2 separate regions of the Homo sapiens genome follow, and region 2 is linked to region 1. The links come from fine-mapping of genetic effects on gene expression. A gene starts in region 1. The other region holds a variant in brackets. All regions are shown on one strand. Distances are from middle to middle. Region 1 holds the start of PLXDC1 (plexin domain containing 1). Region 2 overlaps PLXDC1 (plexin domain containing 1).

Region 1 (5,366 bases):
ACCTCTGCCTCTCGGGTTCAAGCTATTCTCCTGCCTCAGCTTCCTGAGTAACTGAGATTACAGGCATGCACCACCACGCCTGGCTAATTTTTACTAATATACTAATATTAATAATATTAATAACAATACTAAATATACTAATTTTTGTATATTTAGTAGAGACGGGGTTTCACCATGTTAGCCAGGCTGGTCTCAAACTCCTGACCTCAGGTGATCCGCCGGCCTCGGCCTCCCAGAGTGCTGGGATTACAGGCATGAGCCACCCTGCCTGGCCTAAATCATTTATAGACATGGGGTCTCACTATTTTGCCCAGGCTGGTCTCAAACTCCTGGTCTAAAGCTATCCTCCCACCTCAGCCTCCCAAAGTGTTAGGATCACAAGCATGAGCCACCGTGACTGGTGCAAGCCCCCATTTTATAGACGGGGAAACCTTCCTCAGAGAAAGGAGGAAGCTGTCAGGGTCACCAGTAGTTGGTATTGAGCCTGGCCTCCTGCAGGACTCCCAGGCCAGGATGCCAACTCTCGCTGCCTCTTCTTTATCTGTCATATGCACCTCTGGTTCCATCTGACCAGACTGTCAGTTCCCTGGGCCCCTGCTCTGCACCCCAAGGCCATTTTCCTGTCTGTCATCCTGGTCTCCCCTGCTGTCTGACTCTGTCTTTGGGCCACTCATCTCTCTGCTGCTGCTGTTCTAATGATAGATGAGGTTTCAAGGCTCTACCAAACAAGCCTGTCCATCAGGAGCGAGGGGAGATCTCAGCTACTTCCCAAGGCCCCCCACCAGCCCCACAAACCCAGAGCCTTGGGGAAGGATGCTAGCATCTCTTCAGGTCCTGCTCCCAGCTGCCCTTCCACTGGTCACAACAACTCCGCCATCAATCAGGTCAGGCTGCCCCTCCTTAGCAACTCTCCCCCAGAACGTCCTTCTCCTACATCTGGCCTCCCCAGACACCCGCTTCCTCCTCATAGGTCCTCCTGCCTGTGAAATCCCACCTGGCCTGTGAAAAGGGCACCGGACTGGGAGTCAACAGCTGCCGCCTCTGGCTTCTTACAGATTCCTTAAGTCTAACCTCTATCCCTCCTGCTGCAGAAAAAGTGCATTTCTCCTGGCTCAATCTCTGTCAAAGCCAAGAAGACAGGATAGCCTCTACTTAGAGAAGTGATTCAAGTCTCTGCCTGCCCCACTCTTCCTGGTCTCCTCAACCGTCTACTACCCCAACCCTACTCTGAAGGGGCCGCCCTCAGCCAGGCCCGGGTCTGGCCACTATCTCCCAGCCCATCCTTGTTACCTCCCAATTCCCCCTTCCCCAGCCCTCTCCGTGGTTCACACAATCCAGCCAAAGGTTCAGATCCTCCCCTCATAAACTCTGTTACACCCAGAGTTCAGAAGATCACACCAGGTTGAGGATTCAAAGGAGCCCAGAAATTATTCATAACATATCCAACTCTCTCCTGTTTACCTTGATTTTTTTAAAGTATCAGTTACCCATAAAGACCCTAACAAATATGAAAAGGAAAGGCAATTATAAAAGATCCTTCATTATTCCACGCACAAGAGTCAAAGATTTTGCCAACAGCCTCACTTTATAAATGCAAAAATAGGTCCAGAGAGAGAAAGTAACTTGTCTAAAGTCACACAGCAAGTGAGATGGCGGGACTAGAAGCCACGTCTCTGGCCACCCTCTGTGTGGTCTCCCTGAAAATTGGTGGTTCTCACCAGCAGCTTCTCGGTTCGTCAGCTCCACTGCCCTCTGCCCATACTTCCCACTGTCAGCCTCCTTCCCCTCCCACCCCCAACATACTCTTCTTCTCAATAGGGACCCAGGTCTGTCTCAGCTACATGCTGGGACCATTAAAGTCAAGAACATTGCCACTGACACTGTGCCTGGTGCCAGCACACTCCTGAGACACAGCAGGTCAACCACAGCACTCACCTCAACAGCGCCTCCCTCACCCCACCTGAGGGGCACCCATGCCAATGATGCACAGGTATCTATCTTCTTAATCATCTCTGCTGAGGGGCCAGGCTGCAAATTACCCATCTCCCCAACCCCAGAGAAAGTCTAGGTGCTTAGGGGAGAACAGAGACTATGAAAATTATACCATGAGGGATTCCAGGTAGATCTCAGAAAGGACTTCCAGGTGGGAGAGATGAGTTTGGAGAACTGGTAGGGGGGAAGAGGAGTGTGCAGAATGGGACGCCTCCCTCCACCCCCTACCCCAGTGCCCCATCTAGAGCCAGAGTAGCTGAAAGCCAAAGGCTGCCAGGGCAAATGGGAGCAGGTGTGAGGAGGGGGACTCTTGAGGCTGGGGGTGCAGAAGCAGCAAGTTGCTTCTTCCTGGGCCCACTGCCTCTCTACTGACACCAAATAGGCAAGGGAAGGTGACCGAATGGCTGCTGCCTTCCCAGGCAGAGACGCTGTGTCCCCACCATCCCCCTGGCTGCTCCCACCTATCCCTAGCCTGGATCAGCTTTGGGGTCGGGGGTGTGGCAGAGAAGAGGAAAAGAAGGCATGGCTGGGGCAGGGGCCTCCCCAGGCTCCCATCTCATCAGAATTCAGCCTTGCCTGGGGTGATCAGGGGTCCTGATGACTCTCCCGCTGTCCCCTTTCAGAGCCCATGGCCACATAGAGCCCCCTCTCCTAAGGTCCCTCCAGTATCCTTCCAGGAGAGAAGGAGAGGTCCGGGCATCGGTGTCTCCACCGTCACTCACACACCCTATGTGTTTGGGAAAGTGGGGTCCCTATCCACCTGCCCACAGCCCACAGCTCTCCTGGCCTCCTGCGGACAATGCCCCCCTCGCGGACATCGCCAGGCCGTCCACACCTGCCCATGCCCACACCTGACTGCCCGTCCCTCCCCGCCCCCGGCCCACCCGGGCCGGCTCCCGCCAGTCCTACCTGCTCCGGGCTGGGGGCTCAGCGCCCGGGCAGCCTCCCTGAGCACCAGCACCAGGAGCCAGAGCTCGCCTCGCATGGTGGGTGCCCGGACCTGCCCCCGGCCTGCTTGCTGCCCCGGTCCTGACGAGGGAGGGGGCCCTGGCTCAGGCTGCGGCCGCGCGGTCCCCGGGGCTGGCGGAGGGGCGGGCGGCGAGGAGACGGCGGAGCGCGGGGCCGGGCGAGCCGGCAGGAGCGGCGAGAGCGCGAGCGGAGCTGGAGGCTGCGGCCTCCGGGAGCAGGCGGGGAGCTGGGGGGGCCGCTGGGTCGGTGGGGGTGGGGGGGAGCTGGGGCAGGGGGCGGGGCGGGGGGCGCGGCGTCGTTGGGGGCTCTCCCGGCGCCTGCCCTCAGCCCTAACGGAGCGCTCCCCTAGAGCTCTGCAGCCGCTCCCAAGGCAAGGGGTGCAGAGTAGGGGACAGGGCGGGAGCCCCTCGGGCTGAGAGAACCCCTAGAAGCATCAGCCGCCCCGCGCTCCTCACTGAGCTCCTGGCTCCCTTTCCCTCCTCCGTTCCGCCGGGAAAGCTGCAGAGAGAAGGCCCGAGGACTGGACCCCTGGAAGGGACAGGCGCCCCATCCCTGGGTCACGGGCCCCTGACTGTTCCCCGCCCCCAGCTCCTCCAAGCTCTGCGACTTCCTGAGCTGTTCTTCGGAATTCTGTGCGTCTCTGATGCTTTGTCCTCCAGCCCCCACCCCCAGAAATCTCCCCCTGCAGCAAAGACCCCCAGCTTTTCTCCCCAAGAGGGGCCTGAATCCCACCCCCCTTCCATGACTCCACCTTATCCCTCCACCCCCCATTTCCAGCACCGATTTGCCCCCCAAGCCTAGCAGACGTGAGGGTGGAGGGGGCCTGGCTACCCCTTACTCTGCAACAGTCTGGACCCCTCCCCACGAGTAGGTAACCCAGGCCTCCTGCCTCTCTGGGGCCTCCAGGCCTACTCAGGGCCAGACCCAATCAATCTTCAGAGCCAGCCCCAGACGAGGAAATGGCTCACCCCACCTGTCACCACCTTCTGACAGGCTCTGGGGATAGATAATCTTTTTATTTTTTCTTCCAGGACAGAATAAAAATACCCGCAATGTAGGATATTTAATAGACGGCAAGGAATCAGGTCAGGACACGAAGATGCCTCTTCCCTCCCCTGACCTACTTCGTTCTTGTGACGGCAAGGAGCTGGGGCGCTGGAGAGTGGGAGACGGGGTGAGGGGGCATCCTGGCTTCTAGTGGGCTGGGGCCTAGGGACTAGAAAACCGCGGAGAGGAAGGGTGCGAACGCTGAGCGCCATTGGAGAAATTTTCCAGGAGGAGGGATATGGGCGGGGACAGGAGAAGGTACACTGTGGGCTGGAAGAGACGGATTCCGTGGCACTGAGGTTAAAAAAAAAAAAAAGAAAAGAAAAGAAAAAAAAACACCTAAGAAAGGAAACAACTAAAGGCTCTCTAATCTCTTAGAACGCCGGTTCCTCCTTCCGCCGGGCCCAGAGTCCCAGAGACTACCTCCTCCAGCCCTAAACCCAATGTCCCCTTACCGTGGAACAAGGCAAGGCCGGTCTGTAAATTCTTCTTGATGTCTAATTTAAATCCCAACTTGGCGGACTCTCAAACAGAATCAGATAGGCAGCTACCTCCAGCTGCAGCTACTTGCTGCCCTCAAGTGGCCACGTGACGAGCCACAACCCTCTTGTCCTGCGGGTTTCCTCTTTCCCCAGCCTGCCCACCCCCTGTCTCCGACCTCCTGCCTTCCTCGAGGTCAAGGTGAGAAGTCTCGGGACGGATTCCAGCTCCAGCCCCGGCGTCTTTGCACATTCCTCCATCTGGGGTACCTCGTGGTCTGTCTTACAAGAAGAGCTCAGGCTGAAACATAAACTTGTAAATAGTAGAAGCAAATGTGTAAATTTTAACGTAAGCCTCTAGAACTTGAGATCGTAATCACCTGCAGGGTGTGTGTGTGTGTGTGTGTGTGTGTGTGTGTGTGTGTGTGTGTGTATTTTGTTTGTTTTTTGAGACAGGTTCTCGCACGTTGCCTAGGCTGGAGTGCAGTGCTGCGATCATAGCTCACTGCAGCTTCCAACTCCTGGACTCAAGCGATGGGGAGCGTATATGAAAACACAGATTTCTGGACTCCACCCTCAAGTTTCTAATTCATTAGGTCTGGGATGAGGCCCGAGCGTACCCAGGTAATGCTGCTGGTCCCAGGACCACATTTTGAGAGCCACTGCTGTTGAATCCCCAGTTCCTTTCAGTCCCTCACTGCTCCTCGTCTGCCAGTAGGAGTAAAAGCAAACAGCTTAGGAAAAATCGACACCCAGGACAAAAACAGTATCTCGAAAAGGCCAAAGAGGGGGCACCCGGATTTGAACCGGGGACCTCTTGATCTGCAGTCAAATGCTCTACCACTGAGCTATACCCCCTCTGCCGGCAAACCGACCGCA
Region 2 (5,366 bases), 84 kb before region 1:
CAAATTTAGCTGGTTTGCAGGGGGAGTTCTTTCCCAGTGATGAGTTGGGGCTGCTTCTCCCCAGAGTAAAAAATGGCAGCAAATAAATGTTAGATCACAGCCTCTTCTTAGTCATACCCATTTATACATGTCATGAGGGTCATTGCCAAAGAAAGAAGTGAGTTAAGTGTAAGGGAATCTGGTCGGGGGTGGACCAATAACCAGACTCATCCGAACGCTTGGCTGATGGTTTTCCAGTTGCTCCGTGGTTTATCCTTTGTGAAGATGCAAGTGACAATCAGAGTTGGAAACGTGGGGCCTCAGCTCTGCTTGATAAACCAGGCAAGGAAGAGCTGAGGGTGGAGTAGGGGGGTGCCGGTGGAAGGAGGGTCTGAATTTGAGGAAGAAAAAGGACAGTGCAGCAAAGAGTTGGGTTCCTTTCAAGCTTCTAAAGGACACAGTGGGCTGTAACAGAGCTCTCTGAATGAGGGAAGCACAGCCCACCAGCAGAGCATTTACCACCTGTGTGTGTCTCAAATGGCCAGTGGGGCAGTTCCTGCTGTGGCCTGATTCCATGGACAGCACCACTCATCTCACTCCCCAACTCTAGCACACGTTTTCCCACTGGGAGCTCGGCCAACCATTTTGGATCCCTGAAGGGAAAGAATGTCAGGAGTGGAGGAAGGGGTGGTGATGCGGTGAAGCCTCTGCTGCTAGCCCCTGCAGGCAGAGAAAGTTCCAGATGCCTCGGCCTCAGTCAAAGCAAGCCTGGCTGACCCATAGGATGTCAGTGGCATGGGGAGTGGATGTATTTGGCGGCAGATGGCCTGTTTGTTTATGACAAAAAGTACTAGAGATGTGTCACCAAGAGAGGCCTATGGATTTCTTAAGCCAAAACACTTGGACAAAGTCTCCCAAAAAAATAGAACCAAGCATCTCATAGAGTTAATGATTGTCTACAGGATCCCTGACAATGTAAGCATTTCTTTTTCCGTTCTTTTTTTTTTTTTTTTTTTCGGAGACAGGGTCTCACTCTGTCACCCAGGCTGGAGTACAGTGGCATGATTATGACCCCCCACTGCAGCCTCAACCTCCCGGGCTCAAGTGATCCTCCTGGCTCAGCCTCCCTAGTAGCTGGGACTACAGGTGCACCCCACCACACCTGGCATTTTTGTTGTTGTTGCCCAAGCTGGTCTCAAACCCCTGGGCTCAAGCAACCCTCCCACCTCAGCCTCCCAAAGTGCTGGGAGTACAGGCACGAGCCATCAGGCTTGGCCAAATAAGCGTTTATTGGACAGATCCAGTTCTCCAAAGTTTAGAGCAGGTTAACTTGGTAGCTATGGAGTATGACCAGATGGAGACATGGGTCTTGTGGCCGGCCCTGCGACTGGCTGACAGTCCAGCAAGGCAAGGAGGTAGGTACTTCACACACTGTGCACACCCATCTCAGGCAGCCGTAGACCCCTACGCCTCCCCACCCCACAGGCACATGCAGGCTCCAGGGAAAGCAAGTAGTTGGCAGGTGCCTCTCCAACCTGGTGTCTTTGGGCATCCTTGCCCTGGGCGACACAGTGAGACCCTGTCTCAAAAAAAGTCCCTCCCATGCCAGCTGCCTGTGTCCCAACCACTCAGGTGCTTTGCCTCTCAACAGAATCCACCTGCAGTTCCCTGCTAGGTATGTCTCAAGGAGCCCTCTAGCCACCCGACTTGTCTTTAATGCCTATAAAATCCAGTTCAGAGGAGGAAAAATATTTATCAGGCAAGTCCTGCCTTTGGAGGTATGTACAGGCACTGACATCAGAACAGGGCAGTGAGTAAACCCGGCACCGAACAGGCCATCAGAATAGGGAGCCCCACATGGTAAATGTGGCTGCGCATAGCAAGCTCACCCAGGGAAGGCTGGGCTGCAGGTTGGGGTAAAGCCCTTGATGCAGGCTGTAACATGTTTTGATGCAGAAGTTATTGGTTCTGAGTAGAAAGGGCAAGGTAAGAGAGCAAAGCCTAAAAATGCAGTTTCCCCCTTGAGTTCTTTTCTCTCCTCTTATTTGACTTCCCTCCCATGATAACATGCCCCAAGGGCTGAGAGCCACTATACTGTGTTTAACAGATGGAGAGAATACCTTCTTTAGGCTTTCAGAGCTACAGAAGCTGGGGCTAAAATGCCAACTCTATAGCCATGAGGATCTGCTTTCTTTTTTTTTTTTTGAGACGGAGTCTCGCTCTGTCACCCAGGCTGGAGTGCAGTGGCACTATCTGAGCTCACTGCAACCTCTGCCTCCCAGGTTCAAGTGATTCTCGTGTCTCAGCTTCCTGAGTAGCTGGGATACAGGCAAGCGTCACCACACCCAGCTAATTTTTTGTATTTTTAGTAGAGACATTTTAATTATGTTGGCCAGGCTGGTCTCAAACTTCTGACTTCAGGTGATCCGCCTGCCTCAGCCTCCCAAAGTGCTGGGATTACAGGCGTGAGCCAC[T/C]GCACCTGGCCAAGGACCAGCTTGTGAGTCTAGGGAACCTGGAATGCAGCAGCCCCAATCTTGACTTTAGTTAACCTGTGTCATATGCAGGGGCTTTAAAGGTGGCCAGGAGCAGGGCATCTGGCTATCTGGCTATCTCCAGGTAGTGGGTCGGGGAGGCTCTGAGACTGCTACAGAGCAGACCATTGACAGCCTGTAACTGAGTCCAAATTCATTCTGCTTGCTGCGTCATAGCCAATACGTTGAGAGACAAGGAGTTGGAGCAAGGAAAGGGACTTTATTTCGGAGAGCCAGCAAACCAAGAAGATGGTGGACTAATGTCCTAAAGAACCGTCTTAAAATTATGCGGGCTTTGCCTTGTCTTTTATGTTTAGGTCGGGGGAAAGGAAGGGGCTGACAACCGCAGACATCTGGACACCAGCAAGGGTCCAGGGGAGGTTTGCAGAACTTCTTTGTCCTTGGCTAACAGTCTGTCATGTGACAATAGCCAAACCTCCTCATTCCTATAAATCTTTAACAAAAACAGTTAGCTGTTTACATGCTTCCCCTTTAATCCCAGAGTTAGTTTTGCAAACGGCATGATTCCTGTTTTTGCGTTTTATGTCAGTGCTCTAAAGTTATCCTAGCCTAGGTGCAGGAATAGGTAAAGGCCCCTTAAACAAAAATGGAGTTAGTTATGTTAGTTCTTCTGCTGTTTCATGGTTACAAGACACAGAAGAGAACCCTTGCATCAAAACAGGATGAGATTAGGTTGTTGTTCCTATAAAAAATCCATGTGGTTGTTTTTTGGCCCCCTCTTCAATATTCGGGGTGTGCTGACGAAGCGAGCAGCAGCTCTGGAGCCATAAACCACCATCTCATCTCAGCCCAGGGCATGCTGGGAGAGGCCAGGAAAAGTCACTTCTCTTCTTTGCTTTAACTGTCTTTTCTGTGGCCTCAAAGTCTTCAAAGGGGAGACTTGGTGTTCTCAGCACTGCTCAGCCTCCATGAAGCCCTCCTTCTCATGGCCCGAGGGCTCCACCTCCGCATAGGTGGAATGGTCAGGGTGGCTGCGAAACTTCATGGCTGGCCAGTGGTGAGGTCTACGCTGCAGAAGGCACAGAGGCAAAGTCAGTGGGCATGCCCCCGCCCCCATGGGGACCCCACACTCCTGAGCGACAGAGCCAACCAAGACTGTCTCTTATAAGGGCCCTGGGGCACTTGGGCCTACCAGGAGCCACACAACTGACCTTCAGGGACCCTCTCCCTAAAATGTTCCGTGCTGTGATCCCCCAACCACTGGGAAACCTGCCGAAAGCTAGAGTGTGGAAGGAGGACACTTTATCCTTCACTGTGTGGTCTGCAGAACTCACAGCTGAAAGGTTCAGCAATACACCAAGTGGAGACCTAGGACTGCAATGTGAGGGAGTGGCTCAGAGATGGCTGGCATGATGCTTGAGGCTCTGAAAATGCCAAGATAACCCTCCAAGGTAGCACAGGATCCACATCAGAGTCAACAGGGGGCTTATTAAAATGCAGATTCTGGCCTGTGCAGTGGCTTATGCCTGTAATCCCAGCACTTTGGGAGGCCAAGATGGGCAGATCACTTGAGGCCAGGAGTTCAAGACCAGCCTGGCCAACATGGTGAAACACTGTCTCCACTAAAAATACAAAAATTAGCTGAGTGTGGTGGCACGTGCCTGTAGTCGCAACTACTCAGAAGGTTGAGGCACCAGAATTGCTTGAACCCAGGAGGCGGAGGCTGCAGTAAGCCAAGATTGTGCCACTGTACTCCAGCCTAGGCGACAGAGTGAGACTGTCTCGAAATAAATAAAATGCAGATTCCTGGGCCTGCCTTAGACCTGCCCTATCAGAATCCCTGTGGCCCAGGGATCTGCAGTTCCCAGGTGTTACCCAGGTAGGCTAAGACTTCAGAATGACTAAGCCTCCTAAGAAACTGGGGGAATGACCTAGGCCTGTGGGTTAATGAGGCTGGTGGGCTTGTGACCCACGTGGAAGAAACTAGGGTCACAGAGGCACCACTGCTGCACTCTGTGGGGAACTCGTAAGAAGCCAGAAGTGGAGGACTGGGGGCAGGAGCTGCTGAGCTCTGCAGCCCCGAGTGAAGGGGGCTGAGCCTCACATCCCATGCTGCCCCTCAGGCTGGCTCTTCAGAATTGAGACATTCAAAACTTAGTATCCTCAATTAAAGCTCCCAGAGGGCAGCTCTTATCATTATTTGGCTTGTCTATTTTATTTTTATTTCTATTTTAGAGATGGGGTCTCCTCTATTGCCCAGGTTGGAGTGCAGTGGTATGGTCAGGGCTCACTGCAGCCTCAAACCACTGGGCTCAAGGGATCCTCCCACCTCAGCTTCCCAAGCGGCTGGGACCACAGGTACGTGCCACCACGCTGGGCTAATTTTTTAAATTTTTGTAGAGACGGGGTCTCACTCTGTTGCCCAGGCTAGTCTCAAACTCCTGTGCTCAAGTAATCTTGCCTTGGTTTCTCAAAGTGCTAGGATCTTAGGAAGGAGCCACTGCACCTGCCCCTCAATTTTAGCCTTAAAAGCAGGTATCAGTAGGCAAAAGAGGCAGAGACCCTGGTTCCCTCATGGCTTTGAGTAAGTACTGAGCCTGGCATTTGGGCATGAGAGACCATAAATCACTGGAGATAGGCTGCACAGCCACTAGATGAGCACTATGTGGCACTGTGGCCTTCTTTCTTTCCTCTGGGGATTTTTTCTGATTTCACAAATGGGGGAACAAAAGCAGAGGGGCTGTTCCACAGGACAGGAGGGCCGAGGGAGTTCTGAGGTGCTGATTTATCAGGGTGCAGGACTTAACGGGCGCCAGCCATCTCGAAATGTGCCAGGATGGGGTGGATGAAGTTTTCTCAGGTATGTGGCAGGGGAGAGGGAGAAGGGGAGAGGCA

The links. PIP is the estimated chance that this variant, and not a neighbour inherited with it, causes the effect.
Region 2: its variant is the best candidate, but not a certain one, in a credible set for the expression of PLXDC1 in blood mononuclear cells (TOPMed, PIP 0.60).

What each region holds. Positions count from the first base shown.
Region 1 is chr17:39,148,461-39,153,826 of GRCh38, forward strand. PLXDC1 (plexin domain containing 1) reads right to left here and starts at 3,177. Exons shown (of 14, transcript NM_020405.5): 1 at 2,902-3,177. The coding sequence starts at 2,977. It overlaps TRC-GCA2-3 (tRNA-Cys (anticodon GCA) 2-3), which reads right to left and starts at 5,345; the gene lies at 5,274-5,345. RefSeq lists enhancers at 4,681-4,830, 5,203-5,366.
Region 2 is chr17:39,064,420-39,069,785 of GRCh38, forward strand. PLXDC1 (plexin domain containing 1) reads right to left here. Exons shown (of 14, transcript NM_020405.5): 14 at 1-3,540. The coding sequence ends at 3,421. It also overlaps the pseudogene RDM1P5. Among named protein-coding and RNA genes, the nearest start is that of LINC02079, 40 kb to the left of the region's middle. The variant T/C (reference allele first, on the strand shown) is at 2,454.